Homo sapiens: one gene and its partner. The protein of the gene in region 1 interacts with the protein of each later gene in a pairwise test. Each region holds a gene or a part of one and is shown in the gene's direction. Other genes may lie near its edges. The genes, in order: ANXA10 and BLVRB.

Region 1 (10,306 bases):
ACTTTGTTGAAAATGGAGAAGATATTTGAACAATTTGTGTAAGAACATGTAAGGATGGCCATTTAACATATAAAAAGATTACATTCTTAGTAATAAGAGAATTGCAAATTAGAAGCACGATGTGATACAAGCACACAATTTAATGGCTAAAACTTAAAAGGGTGAAAATGTCAAGTATTAGCCCCAAATCATCTTTATTAGTAACAGTCAAATGATTACCAACATGTAAATGGATAAATAATATGTGGTACATCTACTTTATTGGGTGATTTATGAAAATAACAAAGATTAGTGGGAAGAGCCCATGGCTTCCAGTTTGAATAAAGATGGAAATCATTACAAGCAATTTTCTTTAAGTTATAAATATAATTTATAAATATATGATAAGGTGATCCCCTAGAAGATATTCAGGCATAAATTACCTCATAATAAATGACTGTGCAGGAAATAGAATGGAAATAAGAATTAAGAGAAAGAAATGATGCAAAATATTCAATTGCTAAATAAGAACTTATTTTACATATTTAGATGAATTAAGTGGACATTGAATTGCTATGGTATTGAGATCACATTGGATGCTTTGAGAACAGTAAAAAATAACTGTGACTATTTAAACTTGAATGAAATTATTTTATATGACATTGGTAAAAAAGTAGAAGAGGTACATAGTTTTTCCAAATTCTTTGGGGAATGTTGAGACAAAACAATTTGGAGATCATTGTCTAATTGGAAAAAAAATGTTCTATGTCTAGCCTTCTTCTTATGATTGTTGTTTTAGGCAATTTGCAGTACTCAAAAAAGGCAGTGTCAATGTCAACCATACATAAATATATATAAACATATTAAACAACTTTTGTTAATTATACGTTTTTCATCATGTATAAAATAAAAATTTCAAATCATTAGTTAATGTACATAAGCACCATAAAGCAGAGATTTTTGCCTATCTTGTTTCATGAAGTATCCCAAATACCTATTACACTGTCAGAAACCTTTTAGTTGCCTAATAAATATTTGCTAATAAATTGAATGAATGATAAAATGTGACTCCAAGAAGGATTGAATGCTTACTTAATATGGCACAGTAGACAGTAATTCAAATTTTTCTAGATGCTGACACCAGCAACATAGAAGAATAGGAGGATTCTAACTATCCCTCCTCCCACAGACACACCAAATTAACATCTACACATGAAACAATTATTTCCAAGAGAATGACAGAATTTAGTTGAAAGACTCCTACACACTGGAGAATTGAGAAAATACACACATCAAAATGAGTAGGAAAGGCAGATATAAACCACCAAGCCCACCCTGAGCACTGTGCCTTACGATCAGGAAGAAATCCCCAACTCCTAGCTGCATCTAGAGGGATGAAGGATTTGTACCACACATATCACTATGTTTATAATCTCTACCAGACAGCTTGTCTATTAAATTACCTTGCTTGAGGAGCAGCAGGAAAAGGATATCAGAGGATTTCCTTCAAGCAAAAAGAACAAAGAGGAGTTTTAATCCACACAACTATTCCCAGTATCTGTATACCTCAGATCAATCCAGCTTTCAACTTCTAGAAAGAGTTTGGATACACAGATTTCCAGAAGCTCCCTGTGATCCTGGCCTCAAGGATAAACCTCCTCAACCCTAAATAAGAGAGGCAGCAATTTCTGTGCCTTTGTCCTTACGTTTCTCTAGTGATAAATCCCTGCAATCTTTCATTGGAAGGAGGACGGGCTACCTTGCTGTGCTGAACTGGAAGCTCAATGGATACCTACTGAATAAATCCAAGGAGATCCACATCAATGCATCATAAATCAGACTGTCAAAAATTATGGACAAAGAGAGGATACTGAAAGGACAAGGGGAAAGCAAATCATTACATATGAGGGAGATTTCATAAGACTATCAATGGGTTTTTCAGCAATAATCTTGTAGGTCAGAGGGGACTGAGATAATATAGTCAAAAAGCTAGAAGAAAAACAACTGTTAACCAAGAATATTATACCCAGCAATACTATTTTTCAAAACTGAAAAAGAGATAAAACCTTTCTTAAACAAACAGAAATTGAGGCACTTTATCACTGCTAGTTCTGCCTTACAACAAATGCTGAAAGCATTCCTTCAACATAAAGGAAAAGGTCACTAAATAGCAATAGGAAAATATATAAAAATATTTTAAAAAACTCACTGGTAAAAGCGTACACAGAAAGAAGTAAAAGACATTTACACATGAAAGGAAGAAATGAAATTTTATCTGTATGCCAATGACATAATCTTATACATAGAAAATCCTATCAACTCCACTGAATAACTGTTAGAACTGATTTTAAAAATTCAGTAGGGGTGCAGGTTACAAAGTCATTACGCAAAATCAATGGTGTTTCTATATACTAACAACAAACTATCCATAAAACAGACTAAGAAAACAATCTTATTTAAAATTGTATCACGAAAAAATAAAATACTTAGGAGTAAATTTAACCAAGCAGGTAAAATATCTGTACATTAAAAACTACAAAACATTGATGAAAAACTGAAGACAACACAAATAAGTGAAAATATATTTTATATTCATGGACTGAAGGATTAATACTGTTAAAGTAGCCATACCACTCAAGGCAATCTACAAACTTAATACAATTCCTATCAAAATTCTGATGTGATTTTTCACAGAAAAAGGCAAAACAATTTTAAAATTTGCATGGAATCAGAAGAGACCCCAGATAGCCAAAGAAATCTTGAGCAAAAAAAAGAGCAAAGCTGGAGGCATCACACTATCTTATATCAAAATGTATTATGAATCAATCATAATCAAAACAGCATGGAAGTGGAATTAAAACAGACACACTGACCAATGGAACCAATTAGAAAGCCCAGAAGTAAGCCCAAGTATTTATGATCAATTGATTTTTTGGCAAAGGTGTCAAGAACACACAATGATAAAAAGACAGTCTATTCAATAAATGTTGTTGGGAAAAATAGGATATCCACATGCAGAAGAATAAAATTGGACTATTAACTTACACCCTACAGAAAAATTAACTGAAAATGGATTAAAGACTTAACGTAAGACCTGAAACTGTTTAAAACTGCTAGAAGAAAACATAGGGGGAAGTCCATGTCATTGACTTCAGCAATTATTTCTTGGATAGGACCCCAAAAGCATGGAAAAGAAAATCAAAATTAGACAAATAGGATGGCATCAAACCAAAATGCTTCTGCACAGCAAAGAAAACAATCAAGAGTTACAAAACAATCCGTGTACCGGGAGAAAATATTTGCAAACCACACATCTGTTAAGGTGCTAATATGAAAAATATCTAAGAGACTCAAACAACTCAATAACAAGAAAACAAGCAACCTGATTTAAAAATGGGCCAAGGACCCAAAGAGAGAGTCCTCAAAATAAAACATGCTATTAGACAAAGGATATGTTTAAAAATGTTCGGCATCTTTAATCATGAGGGATATGAAAATTAAAGCTGCAATGAGATATCACCTCCCACATGTTAGAATGGCAATTATCAAGAAGACAAAAGATAAGTGTTGGTGAGGTTGTGCAGAAAAAGGATACCTGGTGTTCTGTTCATGGGAATGTAAATTAGTATAGCCATTTTTAAAAACAGTATGGAGATTCCTCAAAAAACAAAACATGGAATTACCATATGATCCACAATCTCACTTCTGGATATATATCCGTAAAGATTGAGATCAGTATATCAAGGAAATGTCTGCACTCCCATGTTCATTCTGGCATTGTCTACAAAAGCAAAGATATGGCAACAACCTAAGTATCCATCAATGGATAAATGGATACAGAAAATGTAGTATACATAAAATAGAATAATATACATGCTTTAAAAAGAAGGAAATTCTGCCATGTGCAACAATATGGATGAAACTAGAGGACATTGTGGTAAGTCACATTTCAAACGCTAATTCATCTGTGAAGCATTCTTCATTTACTTGCTCCCTAAGTAACTTGCCTCTTGAGGAATTGTTCAAAATATTTTTTGCAACTTGCTTATGGCTCTTACCATTTATCATCTTGTATTCTGTTAATTTTTAAAACCTACTAAACTGTAAATCCCTTTGAATCAAGAAACATGCCTTTTCATTTTCTTCTTAAGTTGCTTTGTTTCATTCCTTGAGTATCTATGTAACATTGAGATTGAGGTTACAGGTTCTGTCATTGGACTGCCTAGGTTCAAATTTCACTCTCCTACTTCAAGAGTGAGATTTTAGGCAACATTCTTGACTACAGAGTAATTCCATTTCCTCTCTACTATCTATCTATGCTGTGGATAAAATATGGGCAATAACAGTACCAAGCTCATAGAGTTGTTGTAAGAATTAATTTATACAAGTATATTGACTTGAAACAATGTTTAGAATAGAGGAAAATCCTTATTATTGATAACATTTATTACTGTACAGGTTGTAGATAATCAAATGATATTTAAGTATGAGTAAATAAGTTACAACCAAACATTTTAAAATTTTCATCAGGGAAATTTTCATAAACATAAAATAGAATTATATTAAATAATTAACTACCATCTTTCCCAATAGTTTTCAAGATTTTGCCACACTGGTATCAAAAGGTGTCTCATGACCCTCTTTTCTATGGAATATTATAAGCCAAATACCAGATATCATAATTTCCCTTAAGGACATGTTTTTTAAAAGCTAAATCACAAAATAATGATGAATAAAATTATACATTAAGTACCTATTATCTGGGAGAAAATTAGGGAATATTATCAAATCTCTTTTCTCTGAATTATCTAATAATCTTAGGGAAAGGATTTTGGTCTCAAATATTTTGACAAATTTTGTTCATATTCACATATTTAGTCTCTAATAAAAGCCATAAGACCTGCAACTTACTAAAATAATCATAAAAAATCATTGTAGTTGAAAACTCTTCTATTGTTTCTAATTAAAAAACAATTTTAGTTGAAAATTCTTCTTTTGTTTCTAATTCTGAATCCTATAGTTTTAATAAGTATATCTATTATTTTATAATTGCTATATGCTGTCTACATATAGCAATTATACAATATAAATTATACAATTATAGCAATTATACAATATAAATTATACAATTTTATAATTGCTATATGCTGTCTACATAGCAAAAACACAAGACCCTGATTCATACACAGACACATACACATACATAGTAGGACCTACTAGATTTTAATGTTTTTGAGCCAAGCAGCATGGTTCCATATATCTCTCATAGTACCAGGTATACTGGTAAGGTAATCAGATAATATTATAAATTGAATGCTGAAGAATATATATATATAGTTGCTCATTATATATATATATATTTGTGTTTGTGTGTGTGTGTGTGTGTGTATTACATAAATACATACTGCTTCATGGCTTTTACTCATATTTTAACATCAGAATTATTTTGGGTAGTTCTAGACCTATGGATGCTGATCAGTTGACACTTGTCTTGTTAGTATTTGGTTCTTTCAATAAAGGATTATTTGCTCCTAATTCTTATTCAAAGTATTTTAAAATTTTTATAAATGAACACTATATTGTTCAATAAATAGCAAGTAGCAGTAAAATAATATAATACAGATTCATTTTGTTATTTTTGGAATCATATATGAATGTATCTAGATAGTTTCCAACACTATATTGAACTTTACAGGTTTTTCTAAAATTTATTTCCTTAAAATGCAATAGTTAATATTAAAATTACATATATATAAATATAGGAAAATTAAGTGCAAAAATGATGGTGAATATATTTCTCCAAAGACTTTTATTGGTGGATAATGAATTCTTTTCTAAATATATTTAAAATAATTTTTTTTTAATTTGTGTATTTTTAGTAGAGACGGGGTTTCGCCATGTTGGGCAGCCTGGTCTCGAATTCCTGACCTCAAGTGATCTGCCTGCCTTAGCCTCCCAAAGTGCTGGGATTAGAGGCATGAGCCACCAGGCCCAGCCCCTAAATACATTATTTTTTAATATAAGAGCAGATAAACAGTAGTTGAAATATTCTTTTAAAATTGTATGGATACACATAGAACCTAGCAATTTAAGATAGGAAACTAGGGCTGGAGCACCTGAAAGAGTTTCCATGTTAACAACAATTAAGCAGAAAATAAATGATTAACTTTATGGGTAATCAACTTAGCTTTCCATAAGTCATCAGCTTTTTCAAAAGATTACATTTCTTTCATTAGTTGGCTACTTTATGTGTCTTAAATCAACATACAACTGGGGATTAGGTTAATGGTTCTACTTATTTTGTGCAATAATTCTGCCTACTCACCTATGACTGATAACTAAGTATAAATACAGTATCTCAAGTCATGCTGTATCCAGATTTGCTTTTACATTTTCTTGCCTGAGTCTGAGGTGAACAGTGAACATATTTACATTTGATTTAACAGTGAACCTTAATTCTTTCTGGCTTCACAGTGAAACAAGTTTATGCAATCGATCAAATATTTTCATCCCTGAGGTTAACAATTACCATCAAAATGTTTTGTGGAGACTATGTGAGTATAATGCTTATTTCTGTAAAGCTTTTCACTCTTTTGAAACTTGATTTATAAAATTTCATTTGTGTTTTTTGACGTTTTTAACAGAAAATGTTGTTCTAATTTGTTTTTATTCTTACTACTTTCTTACTATTTTATGCCCATTTTTTGAAAGAAACATTTATAGAATATTTAAATTTTATTTCTGGGATTATTAAACATTACTATGATAACAAGATTTTTTTAATGCAATTATTTGCTATGCTTCTGAAGCAAATAAAGAAAACTGAAGATTAAAGATTTGGATTTGAGCATACCTAAGAATCCATTTAATTAGTGGGTCTTCAATATAACTATTAAACAGAGTTAATATTATGAAATCTTAAATCCATGCTAATTTTGAAACAACGTATTATCCCACAGAGGCAAGTTACTTTCATATGTAATTTGATTCAGAATTCTAACTGAAGTTATCATAAGATTTTTTATCTCGATATTTACTTCTATCTATAAAAAATTAAAATAATTTTGACTATTAATTTTATTTTAAATCCATGCTTTCTGTAAAAGATAGCTTATTTTTGAATAATTTTCTGTTGAATAGAAGCAATGTATAACAAGATTTAGTCTTTTTTTTGGCCTTGTCTGAATCATTTTAGTCCAACTGCTCTAATAGTCATTCACTTTTTAAAAAGCCAACATGAACATTAAGTTGTCTGAATATGCTTTATATGAAAAGGTCTCCATTTCACATGGTCTTGAAAATTATATACAAATGTGAATTTATGCCTTGTGGTCTTAGAAATTATATACAAGTATATGTGTGTTAATGATGATTCTTTACAAATCTATACTATAAAAAAACTTTCAGGAGACTGAGGCAAGAGAATGGCGTGAACCCGGGAGGCGGAGCTTGCAGTGAGCCGAGATCGCGCCACTGCACTCCAGCCTGGGCGACAGAGCGAGACTCCATCTCAAAAAACAAAAAACAACTTTCTGGGAACTTTTATGCAAAAAAATTATAACATAATTATTTTGTTAAACTTTGGCACACAAAACATTGTTTACTCATACAAAGTAATCAATGCAGGAAAATTTTACTTATATATTGTGTTTCTTAAGATAAATACTGAATTAGGACTTAAAAGGCAGCTATTTTCCATCACTGTTAGTTTAACAATCTTAATTTCATCTTAAGATTTCAAGATCTCATTTTGCAGTTGAAAGTTACCATTATTGTTTTATTAATTGTAAGGTGGTTATATTTCACTACAGAGAAAAAAAGGTATCAAGTAATTAGGCCAGCATGGTAAATGATTAAATTTGCAAATGCCTATTGTTTTCTCTCTCTGTTCATTTGAGTATAGTTATTTGGGAGTAATTACTATTATATTCTATGCATTGTGTGGTCTAATGTTACTATTTATATGCCCATTTTTCAAAAGAAACATATTTTATAGAATATTTAAATTATATTTCTGGGATTATTAAACATTACCAGGCTAACAAGATTTTTTTTAAATGCAATTATTTGCTATGCTTCTGAAGCAAATAAAGAAAACTGAAGATTAAAGATTTGGATTTGAGCATACCTAAGAATCCATTTTAAGTACTTTTGATTAGCTATTTTAGAGATGAATGTTATGTTTTATGTATAATCTCAGCAAGCCTGGATGGTAAAATGGTTTTACATAATCAATATCAGTATAGTTTAAAGTAATTTTCTATCTTAAGGTATATGACCCCAGTGGTCAGAATTTAGTGCTAAAAAGGCCAATATTTGAGGCCAAGCTTATCTCTTTAATCGGATGTTCTCAAGCAAGAGACTGGCTCTTCTGTTGACAAGTAATTTCTTATTTTATAATGTGGGTAGTAATTGACTGAGTTGTTTGTTAAAGATATGTCCCTAGATCCTCCTTATTTAGCAGTCCTGATGCAGTATATATAACATCTGAACTTATACACTTGATATAAAAGGGTTACCATTTTTGAGAACCACAGAGATAGGTAGTTCATTACTCTCAAAGTATAGAAAATTTAAATATACTTCAAGCAAGAGACAAGAATCATGGAAAAATGGTTACATTTCTGTAGGAGATAAACATACATAATATGTTAAAATTATTTTCTATATTTCTGGAGTTAGGCGGGCCCCAGTGATTAAGGTAGTTTAAGTGTGCTTGTTACATTAAGAAGGAAATTTATCTTTGGTGCACTAGTGTATTTTACTTATGTGCTTGACTGTAAGACCATCTTTCAAAAGCAAGGTTTAATTAAGAGATTATTGCAAGCCTGAGTTTTGATATATTAGTCAGATATAAATCACATCATAGGAAGATATTATTATAATATTATAATAGCTCTCTTAGAATGGAGGAAATTTTACTATACAGTGTACTTGCCCAAGTCAGGATCTAAACCCAGGTATCTCTACATCCCTAGAGCTCAAATTCTTTTTATTAATATATAATGTCTCTTTAGAATACACCTGCCTCTTTAGAATACAATTTTCTTGTAAAAATTGTTCGCTGATTTTGTCCTGTTTTGTCATCAGCTGATCCCCCTTGTTCATACAGTAGCATCTTATTTACTATAGATTCATTTCTTAGATGATACCCTTCCTTTTGACCTCTAATAGGATTAGAGTTAACTTTAATCCTATTCCCTTTTCTACCCTTTTGACACCTTTTCCTACTTCTATAATATTTATTGACTGACAGAAAATGTTAATCATAGCAGTATGAAAAGTAGGATACATGTTGATATCATATTTCTTACCTAAAATAGCATTATGTATTATACAAACATATAGAAATTATTATAATAATTTACTGTCTATATACATCATCCATACCTTGTTTAATTTAATCTTCACAGCAAATTGTCCTATAAGAATACCATTTAACATGCAAAGGTTTGAAGTTCTTTTGGAGGTACTAGATATTCTACCCAAATGTTTTATACATATTATTTTTGTGTTTGCAAACTTCTAGGACAGTATTATCATCCCCTTTTTCCAGATGAAAATACTAAGGTTCAGAAAAATTAAATACTTTTCCCAGGAGTTAAAAGCCAGTAGGTGACAGATACAGAGGATTCTGTGTAACTCCAAAATCATTTCTACCACACTGAGAGAAAAAAATGCCTAGGTATGATTATTTTTTGTGACCCCAATTAAATGAGAAAAACTTAGCAGCGGTATCTTTACAAAGATGCTTTGACTCATGAGTTTGCCTCAGAATAGCTCAAGAGCACGAAAGTCAGGCAACAGCATGTTAGGCAGTGTCTACTATGGGCAATGAGACATACAGCATTTTAGCCTAACTAGAATAAAAATAAATGCATTGGTTTTTAGCAGTGGATTACATGTAGTGAAGGAAAAGCACTCCATAAATCAGAAATGAATTCAGGGCATATTACCTAGGAGTGATTGCAGACTGACAAGACATCTCATGGGAGGAGAGGCTGTTGATAAGGCAAGATTATTTTCAAGACTGTCTTTTCCTATAGAAAGTAATTCCCAGGACAAAAACTTCCATCCAAGAAATCTGACTTTGATTGTTTATCTGCAGTATGACTTACTGAGCAAATATTATTAAAAGGTTATTCATACTTCAGATTGCTTTTCACTATCACAAGACTACATTGTCTGAACTTTACACACTTTGATTCAACAAAAGTTTTGAATCATGCTGTTATGGCTTCAACTTTTACTGAAACTTCTGTAGAACTAATAAGAGTTGGATTGGAAAAATTAAATTTAACTTTTTCCTTGAACTGGCATGCATGCT
Region 2 (9,622 bases), on another chromosome or scaffold:
TGAGACCCTGTCTCTCAAATTTAAAAAAATACATAAAAAGAAAGAAAAAGAGGCTGGGTGCGGTGGCTCACGCCTGTAATCTCAGCACTTTGGGAGGCTGAGGCAGGTGGATCACGAGGTCAGGAGTTCGAGACCAGCCTGGCCAATATAGTGAAACCCCGTCTCTACTAAAAATACGAAAAATTAGCCGGGCATGGTGGCTGGTGCCTGTAATCGCAGTTACTTGGCAGACTGAGGCAGGAGAATAGCTTGAATCCGGGAGGCAGAGGTTGTGGTGAGCCGAGATTACGCCACTGCATTCCAGCCTGGGCGACAAGAGTGAAACTCTGTCTCAAAAAAAAAAAAATTAGCTGGGCACAGTGGTACGTGCCTGTAATTCCAGGTACTTGGGAGGCTGAGGCACAAGAATCGCTTGAACCTGGGAGGTTGCAGTGAGCTAAGATTGCATCACTGCACCACTGCACTCCAGCCTGGGTGACACAGCAAGATGAAAGGAAAGAAGGAAGGAAGAAAAGGAGGGAGGGATGGAGGGAGGGAGGGAGGGAAGGAAAGAAGGGAGGGAAGGAGGGAGGGAGGGAGGGAGGGAGGGAGAAGGGGCTTGGATTAACTGGAGTTCACAATGGTTCTGTAGGGCCAAGAGTCTTAACAGGCATGAACTCTGGTGCCAGCCTGCCCACATTCAAGTCACCAGCTCTGCGGCTTACAGCCTTTGTGACCAAATGCCTTGTCATCTGTGTACCTAGATATGTGTAAGATCATGACAAAACTGGTAGTACTTGCCCTAGGGCTCTTGGGATAATTAAATGAGATCTTATATAGGAGGTACTTAGACTAGCATTGAATTTTGCAGTCTCTGGATCAGACTTACTTAGGTAAAAATTCAACCTTCTCTACCTACTAGCTGTGTGATCCTGGCCCGGTTGCCTAAAATTGCCTCAGTTTCCCCATCAATGTGGACAGGATAATGATACCTACCTTGCAGGGTTGTTGCAACCTGATGCTTCTCAAACTGTGAGTTACAATGAGATCTGAAACATATGGTCACAACGTGTATCAACAATATAGGGTAACAAATGATGACATAGTATCAAAATGTATCACATGTTAAGTATTAGTTTTGTGAAACTCATTTTAATTATATATGTATGCGTTTGTGTACACCAGGTTAGGCAATGAAATTTTTTGTATTGATGGCTGATTTTTTTTTTTTTTTTTTTTTTTTTTTGAGACAAGAGTCTCACTCTGCCGCCCAGGCTGGAGTGCAGTGGCACAATCTTAGCTCACTGCAAGCTCCGCCTCCCGAGTTCAGCCATTCTCCTGCTTCAGCCTCCCAAGTAGCTGGGACTACAGGCGCCTGCCACCATGCCCAGCTAATTTTTTTTGTATTTTTAGTAAAGATGGGGTTTCACCATGTTAACCAGGATGGTCTCCATCTCCTGACCTCATGATCCGCCCGCCTCAGCCTCCCAAAGTGCTGGGATTACAGGCGTGAGCCACCACGCCCGGCCAATGGCTGAGATTTTCAAAAAGCTTAAAAAGAGGCCAGGCACCATGGCTCACGCCTGTAATCCCAGCACTTTGGGAGGCCAAGGTGGGCGGATCACAAGGTCAGGAGATCGAGACCACCCTGGCTAACACCGTGAAACCCCATCTCTACTAAAAATACAAAAAATTCGCCGGGTGTTGTGGTGCACACCTATAATCCCAGCTACTCTGGAGGCTGAGGTGGGAGAATCGCTTGAACCTGGGAGGCGGAGGTTGCAGTGAGCTGAGATTGCGCCACTGCACTCCAGCCTGGGCAAGAGAGTGAGACTTCATCTCAAAAAAAAAAAAAAAAAGAATGCCCATATTGGCCCATGCAAGCCCCTGCTGCTCCCCCATGTGTGAGGGCAGCACAGATCTTGTGTCATTCCCCTATGAAAGGTGGTCACATAGCACGGGGAGGCTGGTGCTGTGATCCTCACTTCAGAGATGAGGAAGCTGAGGTCCAATCACGGAAGAGGTTGCATGAGGTTCCTCAGCTGGTAAGTGGCAGAGCTGGAGTTTGGATCAAGGTCCCTGGGGCAGTAATGCCTGTGCTTTTGTGTTTACAAAGGTTCAGGGAGATGGCAGAAAACATGACACAGTCCCTGGACCCACAGGGTGCTTGGTTTGCTGCAGGTCAGCATAAAGAGGGCTGTGACAGAGGAAGTACAAGTTACTGGGGGGACCGGGTAAAGAGGGTAAAGGGTGTTCCAGGCAGAGGGCACAGCACGTGCAAAGTCCAGGAGGCAGGAAGCAGCACCATGCATTTGAGGAACTGAAAGAAGAGCAGTTGGGGCCGGGTGCAGTGGCTCATGCCTGTAATCCCAACACTTTGGGGGGCTGAGGCAGGTGGATCACACAGTCAGGAGTTCGAGACCAGCCTGGCTAACATCGTGAAACCCCATCTCTACTAAAAATACAAAAAAATTAGCCAGGCATGGTGGCAGGCGCCTGTAATCACAGCTACTCAGGAGGCTGAGGCAGGAGAATCGCTTGAACCCATGAGACGGAGGTTGCAGTGAGCCGAGACTGCACCACTGCACTCCAGACTGGGCAACAGAGCGAGACTCCGTCTCAGAAAAAAAAAAAAAAAAATGTGCTGTGGGTGAAGAGGGCAGAGGCTTCAGCAGAGCCTGGAGAGGAGAAGCCAGATCCCGAGGGGCCTGGAAGGCTGGCATGAGGAGCATGGGTTTTATCACAGGGCATTTCAGGCTTGCGGGAGGCAACTGAGCAGAGAGGCACTTAAATATTACTGTGGAGAACTCTGTCTGGCTGCTGTGTGGAATATGGATTGGAGAGGGCAGGACTGGGTCCAGGAGCCCAGGGAGGACCCAGGAAAGGGACCAGGAAGGAGACGTAGGCCTGGATCAGGCCAGGAGATAAAGTTGCAAAATGGTTACAAGGTGTAATAGGCCACGCTCGGTAGCTCATGCCTGTAATCCCAGCACTTTGGGAGGCCATGCCAGGCAGATTACTTGAGTCCAGGAGTTCGAGACCAGCCTGGCCAACATGCAAAACCCCATCTCTTTTTTTAATTTTTTTATTGTGTCTTTTTGGGTTTTTTGGTTTTTTATGTTTATTGTTGTTGTTGTTGTTTGTTTTGTTTTGTTTTGTTTTGTTTGAGACGGAGTTTCGCTCTTGTTGCCCAGGCTGGCGTGCAATGGCACAATCTCAGCTGACTGCAATCTCTACCTCCTGGGTTCAAGCGATTCTTCTGCCTCAGCCTCCCAAGTAGCTGGGATTACAGGCATGCACCACCATGCCTGGCTAATTTTGTATTTTTAGTAGAGGCGGGGTTTCCCTGTGTTGGTCAGGCTGGTCTTGGACTTCCAACTTCAGGTGATCCACCTGCCTTGGCCTCCCAAAGTGCTGGGATTACAGGCGTGAGCCATCGCGCCCAGCACCAGGTAACTCTTATTTCTGTGCCAGGTAGTAGCCTAAACTTTTTGTTAATTTAATTTAATTTAATTTAATTTAATTTATTTATTTATTTTTGAGACAGAGTCTTGTTCTGTAGCCCAGGCTGGAGTGCAGTGGTACAATCATAGCTCACTACAGCCTCAGCCACCTGAGTAGCTGAGACTACAGGTTGCGCCAGCACACCTGGCTAGATTTTTTTTATTTTTTTTGCAGAGACGGGGTTTCACTATGTTGCCCAGTCTGGTCTCAAACTCCTGGCCTCAAACAATCTTCCTGTCTTGGCCTCCCAAAGCACTGGGATTATAATAGGCATCAGCCCAGGAATTTGAGGTTACAGTGAGCTATGATTGGCGCCCCTGCACTCCAGCCTGGGCAACAGAGCAAGACCCTGTCTCTAAATATATATATATATATATATATATATATGTTGCTATTACAGTATACCCAAATGTTAACATCCTTTGCCAATGTTTAAAACAAAGGAAGAAATATGTTAGTTGTGAACTTTAAAATGTGTGTGTATGTGTGTGTGTGTTGAAGAGAAACAAAATTATCCAAAATTATTTTGGGAAGGAACATACTAAGACAATATTAAAAATCTTTAATGACCACTAAAGGAGGGCTGGGCTTCCCAGCAGTAAGGCTGGGCAGCAGGGGCTGGGACCAATCCCAGCACTGGTCAGTCTGTAGGCAACCCATGTCCCCCTCAGAACCTCAGTTTCTTCCAGGACCATGGATGGGAGACAGAGACCAGTGCAATGCCTGCATTAACCCTTTAGTTGTTAGAGGGTAGGGAAGTTGCTGGCTGGGTACAGTGGCTTACGCCTGTAATCCTAGCACTTTGGGAGGCCAAGGTGGGTGGATCACCTGAGGTTAGGAGTTCAAGACCAGCCTGGCCAACATGGTAAAACCCTATCTCTACTAGAAACACAAAAATTAGTTGGATGTGGTGGCATGCGCCTGTAGTCCCAGCTACTCGGGAGGCTGAGGCAAAAGAATCGCTTGAACTTGGGAGGCGGAGGTTGCAGTGAGCTGAGATCATGCCACTGTGCTCCAGCCTGGGCAACAGAGGGAGACTCTATCTCAAAAAAAATAATAATGATAGCCAGGTGTGGTGGCACGTGCCTGAACCCGGGAGGCGGAGGTTGCAGTGAGCCGAGATTGTGCCACTGCACTCTAGCCTGGGTTACAGAGTGAGATTCCGTCTCAAAAAATAATAATAATAATAAATAGAAGGTAAGGAATTTACAGGGTGTGGTGCTTGGAGGCTTCAGTTCAGATTATTTATGAATTATCATGAAGGTATGGTCTTTTTTTTTTTTTTTTTTTTTTTTTTTTTTTTTTTTGAGATAGAGTCTCGCTTTGTCATCCAGGCTGGAGTGCACTGGTGCAATCTCTGCTCACTGCAACCTCCGCCTGTCGGGTCAAGTGATTCTTTTGCCTCAGCTTCCCAAGTACTTGGGATTACAGGTATGTGCCACCATGCCTGGCTAATTTTGTATTTTTAGTGGCAATGGGGTTTCATCATGTTGTCCAGGCTGGTCTCAAACTCCTGACCTCAGGTGATCTGCCCGCCTCAGCCTCCCAAAGTGTTGAGATTACAGGCGTGAGCCACCATGCCTGGCCAAGGTATGGTCTATTTTAATAATCAGCCCAATACTAAGCATCAACTGTAGGTATGCCAGCAAAAATGTTTGAAGGCCACGGCGCAGTGGCTCATGGGGAGGCTGAGGCAGGCAGATCACCTGAGCCCAGGAGTTCAAGACCAGCCTGGGCAACATGGCAAAACCCCTTCTCTACAAAAGATTGCAAAATTAGCTGGGTGTGGTGGTGCACACTGTGGTCCCAGCTACTTGGGGTGCTGAGATGGGAGGATCAGTTGAACCCCGGAGGTTGAGGCTGCAGTGAGCTGTGACTGCACCATTGCACAGCAGCCTGGGCAAGTGAGCAAGACCCTGTCTCAAAAACAAAACAAACAAAAAGAAAAAACCAAAAATGTTTGAAGACCACTTCCCCAGAACAGAGGAGGGGATGGATTTGAGAGTTCATGGTGGCTTCTAGGACCCAGCTCCTGGAGCCCAAGAGTGCCAGCCCACTGACCAGGCTCTCTGCTCCTCTTTGCCCACAGGTTACGAAGTGACAGTGCTGGTGCGGGACTCCTCCAGGCTGCCATCAGAGGGGCCCCGGCCGGCCCACGTGGTAGTGGGAGATGTTCTGCAGGCAGCCGATGTGGACAAGACCGTGGCTGGGCAGGACGCTGTCATCGTGCTGCTGGGCACCCGCAATGACCTCAGTACTGAGCCCCCCCTCTGCCCACGGCCCTCCCCTACACCTCGGCCCCCAGCGCCACCCCCGCCCCCGGCCCCGCCCCTGCCACCCCTGCCGCCGCCGCCGCCCACCAGTGACAGCCACTCTCTGTCCCCTCTAAGGTCCCACGACAGTGATGTCCGAGGGCGCCCGGAACATTGTGGCAGCCATGAAGGCTCATGGTGTGGACAAGGTCGTGGCCTGCACCTCGGGTGGGTGGTGGGATCATGGAGGTGGGGCTGAACTGGGGGGTACTGGGGAGGCAGCCCAGGGGCCTCTGAAAGGTGACGCTGAAGCCATTCCATGTTACTGTGCATTTACTGAACACCAGCTGTGTGCCTGAACCTTACTGGGTGATGCTGGGGACACAGTGGTGACCTGTACAGCCCTGGGCCCTGCTCACACAAGGCTCACAGAGAGAGGTGGTAAACAGATCCATGATCAAACTGACATCCAGATCATCGGAGCTGGGATCGGGAGGCAGGCAGAGGGGATAGGGCCACAATGGGAGAAACTACAGGACTATGGGAGCCCAGAGGAGGCGTCCGACTTAGGCTGAGAGAGGTCAGGGTAGGCCTCCCAGAGGAAGTGATAGAGCTGTGGATAGACACTAGGTCTCTGCCCTCACAGAGCTCCCGATTATGGGGACACAGACATTAAGCAAATAGTTGCCCTGTATAATCATTTATTTATTTATTTATTTATTTATAGTTATTTTGAGGTTTGTTTGAGATAGAGTCTTGCTCTGATGCCCAGGCTGGAGTGCAGTGGCGTGATCTTGGCTCCCTGCAACCTCCGCCTCCCGGAGGTGGTTCTCCTGCCTCAAGTGATTCTCCTGCCTCTGCCTCCCAGGTAGCTGGGACTACAGGTGTGCACCACCATGCCCAGCTAATTTTTGTATTTTTAGTAGAGACAGGGTTTCGCCATGTTGGCCAGGCTAGTCTCGAACTCCTGACCTCAAGTGTGTTTCATGACACAAATTGCCTCCCTGGAAAGGGAAGTGGCATGAGGGAGGGCTGCCTGATGATTGTAATTACACTCCAGGCAGAGGACAAAGCAAGCAAAGAGGCCTGGAGGCCAGACCTAGTTGGAGGGTAGGAAGCAAAATCATTTATGGCTTTTTTCCTCAAGCTCTGAAATGGAAAAGTAATACACGAGTAAACTTGCGATTTCAGAATGGTTCACTTTTTTTTTTTTTTTTTGAGACTTTCTGTCACCCAGGCTGGAGTGCAGTGGTGCAACCATGGCTCACTGCAGCCTCAGTCTGGGTTCAAGTGATCCTCCCCACTGCAGCCTCCCAAGCGGCTGGGACTACAGGCATGCACCACCACACCTGGCTAATTTTTTGATATTTTTGTAGAGACAAGGTCTTACTTTTGTTCGCAGATTGGAATGGTCTGCTGTTAATTTTAGTTTTGTTTTTTTCTCCCATGTCTTTTTTTCTTTGAGATGAAGTCTGACTCCATTGCCCAGGCTGGAGTGCAGTGGCGTGGTATCAGCTCACTGCAACCGCCACTCCACCTCCCGGGTTCATGGTGCCTGGGACCAAGATCGTGGCCCACAGTGATTCTCCTGCCCCAGCCTCCTGAGTAGCTGGGATTACCGGCGCCTGCCACCATGCCCTGCTAATTTTTGTATTTTTGGTAGAGACAAGGTTTTGCCATGTTGGCCAGGCTGATGTTGAACTCCTGGCCTCAAGCAGTCCTCCCACCTCAGCCTTCCAAAGTGCTGAGATTACAGGTATAAGCCACCACGTCCAGACTCTCCCATGTCTTAAAAACCAATTTAACTGGTTAAGTTTTGCTTCCATGAAAAAGACAAACCTGTAAAATTGATTTAATTTGCTTTCTTTTTTCTCATTTTTTTTTGTTTAGATTGTTTTCTAAATATTAAAGTCTTAGGTGTGCCAGGATTTTTTTTTTCATTAAAAAAAAAACAAACATAGAGACAAGGTCTCGCTCTGTCACCCAGGCTGGAGTGCAGTGGCCTGATCATAGCTCATTGTACCCTTGAACCCCTGGGCTCAAGGAATCCCCTCACTTTAGCCCCTCAAATAGCTGGGGCAACAGGTATGAGCCATTGAGTCCAGCTTAACTTTTTATCTGGAAATGATCTTAAACTTACAGAAAAATTGAAAGGACACCAGTACACCTACCGTCCTCTGTTCACAGACACACAATGTTTTTTTTCTGACCCATTTGAAGTTAGCTTACATACATCATGGCTGCTTACTTCAATGTGTAGGTCCTCAATATACTTTTTAACTTTTTATTATAAAAATTTTTAAACAGAAAAGTTAATAGTCGTGTGAACAACCATATTCCTTTTCTTTTTTTATTTTTAAGTTTGTAGCTATCTATCTATTTATTTATTTATTTTGAGACCGGGTTATAAGGCTGGCTAATTTTTGTATTTTTGGTAGAGATAGAGTTTCGCCATGTTGCCCAGGCTGGTCCCGAACTCCCGGACTCAAGCGATCCACCAGCCTCAGCCTCCCAAAGTGCTGGGATTACACCTGAGCCACTGCACCTGGCCAACAGCCATATTCCTGATTTTAAAATTGTGATTGTGTTTTGTAATTGGTTTATCTATGCACATACACATACACAAATAGATTTTGTTTTTGTTCTCCTAAACTATTTGGGTTTTTTGTTTGTTTGTTTTTATTTGAGACAGAGTCTCATTCTGTCACCCAGGCCGGAATACAGTGGCGTGATCTTGGCTCACTGCAACATCCACCTCCTGGGTTCAAGGGATTCTCCTGCCTCAGCCTCCTGAGTAGCTGGGATTACAGGTGCCTGCCACCACATCTGGTTAATTTTGTGTGTGTGTATTTTTAGTATAGATGGGGTTTCACCATATTGGGCAGGCTGGTCTGACCTCAAGTGATCTGGCCTCCCAAAGTGCTGGATTACAGGCATGAGCCACTGCGCCCAGACTTCCTAAACTATTTGAAATGGAGTTGCACACCCACAGACACCTTCGGCAAGTCCCAAGAAAAAGGACTTTTCTCTTCCAGCACCACAGTGCTATTGTCACACTTTAATTATCTTCCAGCCTCTAATTATTAGAGTTTAATCTTCCCTCCATATTCAAATGTCAAGGTAAAAGATTAGAAAGATTTTTGTCATCTAAGGAGCTTGGAGTTTATCCATTAGGGCTTGGGGAGGATTGTTTTTTATGGAGGCATCTGAGAGGATTAGAAAGAAACCCAGAGTAAGGCCAGGCACAGTGGCTCACGCCTGTAATCCTAGCACTTTGAGAGGCCAAGGTGGGCGGATTGCTTGCGTCCAGGAGTGCAGGACCAGTCTGGGCAACACAGCAAAACTCCATCTCTACAAAAAAAAAATACAAAAAATTAGCTGGGTGTGGTGGTACACACCTGTGGTCCCCAATACTTGGGAAGCTTAGGTAGGAGGATCCTTTGAGCCTAGAAGGCAGAGGTTGCAGTGAGCCGTGATGGCACCACTGCACTCCAGCCTTGGCTGCAGAGCAAGACCCTGTCTCAAAACACAACAAAACAGCCGGGTGCTGTGGCTCACGCCTGTAATCCCAGCACTTTGGGAGGCCAAGGTGGGTGGATCACGAGGTCAGGAGATTGAGACCATCCTGGCTAACACAGTGAAACACCGTCTCTACTAAAAATACAAAAAATTAGCCAGGCGTGGCGGCGGGTGCCTATAGTCCCAGCTACTCGGGAGGCTGAGGCAGGAGAATGGCGTAAACCCGGGAGGAGGAGCTTGCAGTGAGCTGAGATCGTGCCACTGCACTCCAGCCTGGGTGACAGAGCGAGACTGCCTCAAAAAAAAAAAGAAAAAAGAAACTAGGGGTAAGTTAGAGACTGGATTTGAGATTGTGAACTGGAGACTGG

What was found.
Region 2: the proteins of ANXA10 (region 1) and BLVRB interact in binary tests that used the Homo sapiens proteins (3 or more experiments, as listed by UniProt).

Annotation. Positions count from the first base shown.
Region 1 is NC_000004.12:168,086,186-168,096,491, forward strand, and holds the start of ANXA10 (annexin A10), read left to right. Parts: upstream 1-6,351; 5' UTR 6,352-6,515; coding exon 6,516-6,533; intron 6,534-6,551; exon of another isoform or gene 6,552-10,306.
Region 2 is NC_000019.10:40,454,496-40,464,117, reverse strand, and holds part of BLVRB (flavin reductase (NADPH)), read left to right. Parts: intron 1-5,572; coding exon 5,573-5,737; intron 5,738-5,873; coding exon 5,874-5,963; intron 5,964-9,622. UniProt on the Homo sapiens protein: Enzyme that can both act as a NAD(P)H-dependent reductase and a S-nitroso-CoA-dependent nitrosyltransferase. Promotes fetal heme degradation during development.